2 linked regions of the Homo sapiens genome follow. The protein of the gene in region 1 purifies or fractionates together with the protein of each later gene. This does not show direct contact. Each region holds a gene or a part of one and is shown on either strand. Other genes may lie near its edges.

Evidence for each region.
Region 2: the proteins of NACC1 (region 1) and XPNPEP3 purify together in Homo sapiens (affinity purification with mass spectrometry, with the first as the bait; one large-scale study listed by BioGRID). This does not show direct contact.

What each region holds. Positions count from the first base shown.
Region 1 is NC_000019.10:13,131,652-13,135,386, reverse strand, and holds part of NACC1 (nucleus accumbens-associated protein 1), read right to left. Parts: intron 188-3,735; 5' UTR 180-187; coding exon 1-179. UniProt on the Homo sapiens protein: Functions as a transcriptional repressor. Seems to function as a transcriptional corepressor in neuronal cells through recruitment of HDAC3 and HDAC4. Contributes to tumor progression, and tumor cell proliferation and survival.
Region 2 is NC_000022.11:40,863,417-40,867,151, reverse strand, and holds part of XPNPEP3 (xaa-Pro aminopeptidase 3), read right to left. Parts: intron 1-3,735. UniProt on the Homo sapiens protein: Catalyzes the removal of a penultimate prolyl residue from the N-termini of peptides, such as Leu-Pro-Ala. Also shows low activity towards peptides with Ala or Ser at the P1 position.

The sequences.
Region 1 (3,735 bases):
TTGAACAGGTCCCGGAAGTAGGAGCTGCTGGCAGCAAGCACGGCCCGGTGGGCCTTGAAGGCATGGCCCTTGACCACCACTGACACGTCACAGTACAGGCCCTGCAGCCGCTGTTCATTGAGGCACTCCAGGATGCTGTTGCCGAAGTTCGGGATCTCCATCTGCAGTGTCTGGGCCATGGCAGCGGCTGCACGAGGGGCAGGGAGGAATGGAGAGACAGAGACGGAGGGACGGGGTCAGGCGGCAAATGTGGGTGCTGGCCTAGCCCTGGCCCCAAAGACCTCCCCTGCTGGAGGGACATCCGCACGATGGAATCTACCATGGTGCTAAACCACACAGAGCCCTCTACCCTATCTGTCCTGGTACAGACTCACTTTTACAATATGTGGTCAAATCTGCTAAGCTAGCTGCAGACCAGGGTGGCCACACGCTATCCCTTGCAAAGAGGAGGGGGCAAAGGCATACTTATTCATATGTACTTGAAGAGTAACTGAATATGCTTAAGTGCTCGGAAGAGTGGCTAGGACACAGTGTGCTACCTCTGAGTGCCAGCTATTGCAAGCACCAGGTACATATATGGTATCTCTTCAGGGTACTGGCATGGAAATGCCAGAAAGGCAGGGTCATCTGACTGTGCAGCAGAGTCTGCAGTGCTGGGCACATGCCCTTCAATCACTGTTTGTATAATGACTAAATGACCACTCAAGAAATTACATGAGGTCAGGCGCAGTGGCTCACTCATGTAATCTCAGCACTTTGGGAGGCTGAGGCAGGCGGATCACTTGAGGCCAGGAGTTCGAGACCAGCTTGGCCAACGTGGCAAAACCCTGTCTACCAAAAATACAAAAATTAGCCAGGTAAGGTGGTGTGGGTATGTAGTCCCAGCTACTAGGGAGGCTGAAGCCAGATAATTACTTGAACCCAGGAGACAGAGGTTGCAGTGAGCCGAGATTGTGGCACTGCACTTCAGCCTGGGGCATAGAGTAAGACTGTCTCAAAAAAAAAAAAGGAAAAAGAAATTGCATGAGGCTGGGTGCAGTGGCTCATGCCTGTAATCCCAGCACTTTGGGAGGGCAAGGCGTGTGGATCACTTGAGCCTAGGAGATTGAGACCAGCCTGGGCAGCATGGTGAAACCCTGCCTCTTACGAAAAATACAAAAATTACCCCGGCATGGTGGAGCACACCTGTGGTCCCAGCTACTAGGGAGGGTGTGGTGGGGGGTGGATCTGTTGTTGAGCCCAGGTCAAGGCTGCAGTGAGCTGTGATTGCGCCACTATACTCCAGCCTGGGATACAGACAGAGACACTGTCTCAAAAATAAATAAATAAATAAATAACTTACATGAAAACATCTCTAGTCATCAGGGAAATTAGAAGAAAACATCATCAGGGAAATGCAAATCCTAACCACAATGAGACACCATCTCACACCCACTAGGATGGCTGGAATCAAAAAAGTTGGTGAGGATGAGAAATCCAGAACCCATTTCCACTGCTTGTGGGAATGTCAAATGGCACAGCCACCATGGAGAACAGTCTGACGGTTCCTCAAACGGTTAAAGAGAGTTACCATATGACCCAGCGATTCCACTCCTGGAATTTATGCCCAGGAAAAACGAAAACATTTGCCTGCATTGAAAACCTGTAAACAAACGTTCACAGCAGCATTATTCACAATAGCCCAAAGGTGGAAACAATCCAAACGTCCATCTGCGGATGGATGGGCCAACTAAACATGGTCAGTCCATACAATGGGATATTATTCAGCTATAAAAAGAAAGGAAATTCTGACACATGCTACAACATGGATGTCCCTGGAAAAGATTATTCCAACAGAAAGAGGCCAAACAAAAGGACCACAGATTGTATGATCCATTTATAGGAAATGTCCAGGACAGGCAAATCCACGCAGACAGGAGGCAGATTAGTGGTTGCCAGGGGCTGGGAGGCGGGGAGAATGGGGGTGTGGTGAGGGAAAGCAAAGGGAAGGCAAAGGTGTGTGGGGTTTATTCTTTTTTCTTTTTTTTTTTTGAGATGGAGTCTCACTCTGTCGCCCAGGCTGGAGTGCTGGGATTCCAGGTGTGAGCTATCACGCCCGGCCTCCTCTGTAATTCTATAGGGTCTCTAGAGGGCAGTGGTCCTAACTGGGCAGAGTGCGAGTGAGAAGGCTTCCCTGAGTAAGGCAGATCTTTCCAGACACTCCAGCTGGCCAGCAGGAGAAAGTAACAAGTACATGCAAAGGCCCTGGTGCAGGAATGCACACCTTCCCTCCCTTCCAGTTAGCTCTCAAGCACCTTCCATGTTTCATTAGCAACTCCACTCAGATCTGCCTCCCTGGGCTGGGCACTGAGAATACAGTGGCCACTCTCCTCCTAATCTGGTAACACCCGTTCCGTCTGAAAGGGCTGCTGTGAGGAATAGAAACGGCAAGTGTTCAAAGGCTCAGAGGTACAACCTAAGGTTGAGTCCTGGCTCCAGCACCGACCTGCTCCTCTGACCAGGAGCTCCAAATCTCTGCTTTCTCCATTTGGAAATCGAGGCTGAGGAGGTCAACCTGATTCTACAAACTCAACCTACACTTATTGTTACTGAATGATCATTCAAGAAATTACACGGAAACATTACTAGTCATCAGGGAAATGTGAATCCTAACCACAGTGAGATACCATCTCACTTACTGAGCTGCTACCCTGGCAGGCCACAAGCAAGACACAGGCCCTGCCCCTTACAACACCCAGGCGAATGGAGGAACCAACTCACAACTTCTATGAGCTCCCCGAATCCTCTTAGCAAGACTTCAGGGCTGGTTTCATACTCCCCTTGCAAAGCTGGAAAAACTGAGGTCATGTGGAAATTGAGGACTGTCCTGAGGTCATCTAAAAATTCATTCACCAGGTTCAAAATTCAAAAGATATGTCCTGAAGGGCGGGATGACTCAAGCCTGTAATCCCAGCACTTTTTTTTTTTTTTTTTTTTTTAAGACAGAGTCTTGCTCTGTTACCCAGGCTGGAGTGCAGTGGTGCCATCTCGGCTCACTGCAACCTCCGCCTCCCAGGGTCAAGTGATTCTCAGCCTCCTGAGTAGCTGGGCCTACAGGCGTGTGCCACCATGTCCGGCTAATTTTTGTACTTGTAGTAGAGATGCGGTTTCACCACATAGGCCAGGCTGGTCTTGAACTACTGACCTCAAATGATCCACCTGCCTTGGCCTCCCAAAGTGTAGGATTACAGGCATGAGCCACCACACCTGGCCAATCCCAGCACTTTGGGAGGCCGAGTCAGGTGGATCACCTGAGGTCGGGAGTTCGAGACCAGCCTGGCAAACACGGTGAAACTCCATCTTTATTAAAAATACAAAAATTAGCTGGGTGTGGTGGCCGGTGCCTGTAATCCCAGCTACTCGGGAGGCTGAGGCAGGAGAATCACTTGAACCCGGGAGGGTGGAGGTTGCAGTGAGTCAAGATTGTGCCATTGCACTCTAGCCTGGGCAACAGAGTGAGACTATGTCTCAAAACAAAAACAAACAAAAAAACCCAAGATATGTCCTGAGCTATCTGCTGCCCCTACCACTTACATGCAAAAAGTGGTAAGGCCAAGATTCAAACCAGGGTCTGCCTAGGCACCACAGCCTGTGACTTCCCTTGCTTGTATCTTCCTTCCTCTTCCCCTCCTCAAAATCACTGCCACCATCCTACGAAAACACAAACAAAACAAAACAAAACCCCAAAACCTCCTT
Region 2 (3,735 bases), on another chromosome or scaffold:
TCTAACTCCTTAATTTAGAATACAAAGCCTTCAAAGCTATCTTACCTTCCTAATCTTTTCATCTCCCTCCAGCAGCACTAACCCACTGGTGGAGTAGGCTGCTGTTGCATTGGTGATTTCTCTTTCTCTCCTCCTGCACCTTCTCCACATGCACGCTCGTGCACACGTACTCATGCACACATAGTGTCTTCTGTAATCTCATTAGGCAGTAAAATTTCAGAATATAAAAAGTTAACTGATTCCTTTTTCAATGCTCATATGAAATAATCCTAGCATATTTTGGACCACTCTCAAGCAGAGGGAGCTTAACTTTATTAAATTCAAAGCAAACAAGTAACACTTTAACAGGAGACATAAATTAAGATGTTTATTCCCAGTAAATTTTTAAAAAAGGTCTCAATAGCTTTTTACTTACATTAAACATCTTTTGCCCGAAGTCATATAATTAGTAGCAAAGCTGGTGTGTTAAGTCCTATTTCAAAAATATCCAGTTCATAAGCTTCAAACTCTTTTGCTTAGGAAACTTCATGATTTGGATCCTGCTCCCTTATCTGACCTAATCCTCAAAAAACATTATTGCAGCCACACTAAGCTACTTGAAGAACCCCGGCTAAATCATTCTGCATCATAATAGCATTTGCATTAAAAAATATAGTTCTCTTAGTCTAAAGTGGACACTGCCTGCTTATACGATTACAGAAATTCTAAAAAATACCAGCTCAAACATCACTTACGCAAGAGACTTCTCTTACTCTTCTCACACCTACTGCCTCTGTTCTGCTTGTTTCAGATGTCTTCCCCAACGCTCCTATGATTTCTATTTTAATACCTACTACACTTCACATAATTGCTAATTAGTTTGCCAGTCTACTATGAACAATCTTTGGAAGCAGAGATCACTTGTTATTTGACTTTATTTTCCCAGTGACTTGATTTGAAATGTATTTTGAAGTTAAAAGTCAATGAGTCTGGCTTCTAATTGGACATAAGAAATAAAGAAAAAAGAGGAATTAAGAATAATTCTTGATTTTTGACTTGAACAAGTGAATAAATGGTTGTACCACTACATGCAACAGGAAAGCCTGAGATATTTATTGGAAATAAATTTAATGGAGAGGTCAAAGAGCAATCTTAATTTCAGGGAGAAAAGTGCTAGGCTAGATATATAAATTAGGGTGTTATAAGCACACAGATGGCATCTAAAGCCCTGGGAATGGGTATTACCCAGGGAGACTGAACAAAGCCTGGCACTGTAATATTTTAGTGTGAGAAAGAGCACAGGAGAAAGAAGGAAAACTAGAAGAGTACAGTATTTAGTGCTGGGCATGGTGGCTCATGCTTGTAATCCCAGCACTTTGGGAGGCCGAGGCAGGCAGACAGATCACTTGAGGCCAGGAGTTCGGGACCAGCCTGGCCAACATGGCTAAACCCTGTCTCTACCCGCTGCCCCCCCGCCCCCCACAAAAAAAGAGTGTGGTATTTAGGAAGTTAAAAAACAAGTGTTTTAAGAAGTGGGGAGGACTATGCCAGGCGCAGTGGCTCACACCTGTAATCCCAGCACTTTGGGAGGCCGAGGCAAGTGGATCACCTGAGGTCGGGAGTTCGAGACCAGCCTGACCAACATGGAGAAACCCTGTCTCTACTAAAAATACAAAATTAGCCAGGCATGGTGGCACATGCCTGTAATCCCAGCTACTCGGGAGGCTGAAGCAGGAGAATGGCTTGAACCTGGGAAGTAGAGGTTGCAGTGAGCCGAGATCACACCACTGTACTCTAGCCTGGGCAACGAGAGTGAAACTCCATCTCAAAAAAAAAAAAAAAAAAAAGTGAGGAGGGCTCACAGTGTGGCAAGTGCTTCAAAATACAAGGAAGCCAAAAGGACAACCACTGGATATGGTAACATCAATCACTGGAGACCCTGGCGATTTTAGCAGAGTAAAGAAGACAGAAGACAGATTGGAGTATGCCAAGGAGGGAATAGGATGTAAGAAAGCAAAGACACTGAGACAATACTCTGGATAAGTTTTGTTGTGAAGAGGCAGAGAAAATGGCACAGCGGATGGCTGGGAGGCAAAGGATCAACAAAGAAGGGTATAACTGCAGAAACAAGTGCTCGTATTATAACTTTACACTCCACTGAAATTAGTTTTTTCAAACTATATGAATTTCTTAAGAGCAGAATTTCCTATTTTCTACCTTTTCTCTGTATCATAGTGTCAGAGGCGTTTGAACCAGAGCAACTCCATCTTCAGTAGGGGTTTGGTAAAATAAGGCTAAGACCTACTGGGCTACATTCCCAGTAAGTTAAGGCAGTCTTAATCACAGAATGAAATAGGAAGTCAGCACAAAATGCAGGACACAAAAACCCTGCTAATAAAACAGGTAGGTTATAGTAAAGAAGCTGACCAGCTGGGTGCGGTGGCTCATGCCTGTAATCCCAGCGCTTTGGGAGGCTGAGGCGGGCAGATCACCTGAGGTTGGGAGTTCGAGATCAGCCTGACCAACATGGAGAAACCCCCTCTCTACTAAAAATACAAAATTAGCCGGGCGTGGTGGTGCATGCCTGTAATCCCAGCTACTCAGCGGGCTGAGGCAGGAGAATGGCTTGAACCCGGGAGGTAGATGTTGCAGTGAGCCAAGACCCCACCATTGCACTCCAGCCTGGGCAATAAGAGCGAAACTCCACCTCAAATAATAATAATAGTAACAATAATAATGAAAATAAAATAAGTCCCTGTCAAATTTAGACACTGCGAACATCTTCTCCTAGACTGTCACCTTCCTGTGAGCTTTACCTGTGATGTTCTTAAAAAAAGGAGCTGGCCAAACCCCACTAAAACTAAGATGGCAATGACAGTAACCTCTGATTGTCCTCACTGCTACACTCCCACCAGCACCCCAAGAGTTTACAGATGCCATGGCAACGTCAGGAAGTTACCCTATATGGTCTGAAATGGGGAAGCATGAATAATCCACTTCCTGTTTAGGATATAATCAAGAAATAACCATAAAAATGGGCAACCAGCAGCCCTTGGGGCTGCTCTGCCTATGGAGTAGCCATTCTTTATTCCTTTACTTTCTTAATAAACTTGCTTTTACTTTACTCTGTGGATTCCACTGAAATTCTTTCTTGCACGAGATCCAAGAACCATCTCTTGGGGTCTGGATTGGGACCCCTTTCCGGTAACAGCAGGTTCTCAGTATCTGTTTGTGGAATGCCTAGAACCTAAACTCTTTAAGTCCTAGTCCGAGAAATGCAGTAGAGTGGAATGAGAACTTGAAATTAGACTCAAGTTTAAAAATCAGATTTTTCACTAACAAGCTATGTAGCCTTAGACAAATTACTTTCTCTCTCAGAACGTCTGTTTTCTTATGGGCATAAAATATTTATTTTGCTAGAGTGCTGTGTCAGTTAAATGAGCACTTGCTACAGTGTGACTCAGAGGGTACTCAAATAATTTTCGACATTATTGGTTATTATTTCCAGTGGTAGGCAAATTATAATCATGGGTAAGCCACACATAAGTACATGTAAGCACATACACTGGAGAGAATTTAAATTGAGTTTTAAGCATTTCACAATACCTCTAAAAAATGAGTATATATAAAAATGCAAAGCAAAAAAATATTCAGACCTGACAAATGGTCTTGAAAGACTAGAAGCATACACTACAGTTTTAGATTTCATTAGCGTATCATTTAACTGAGGGGTTATAAATGTGATGGAAAATAAAA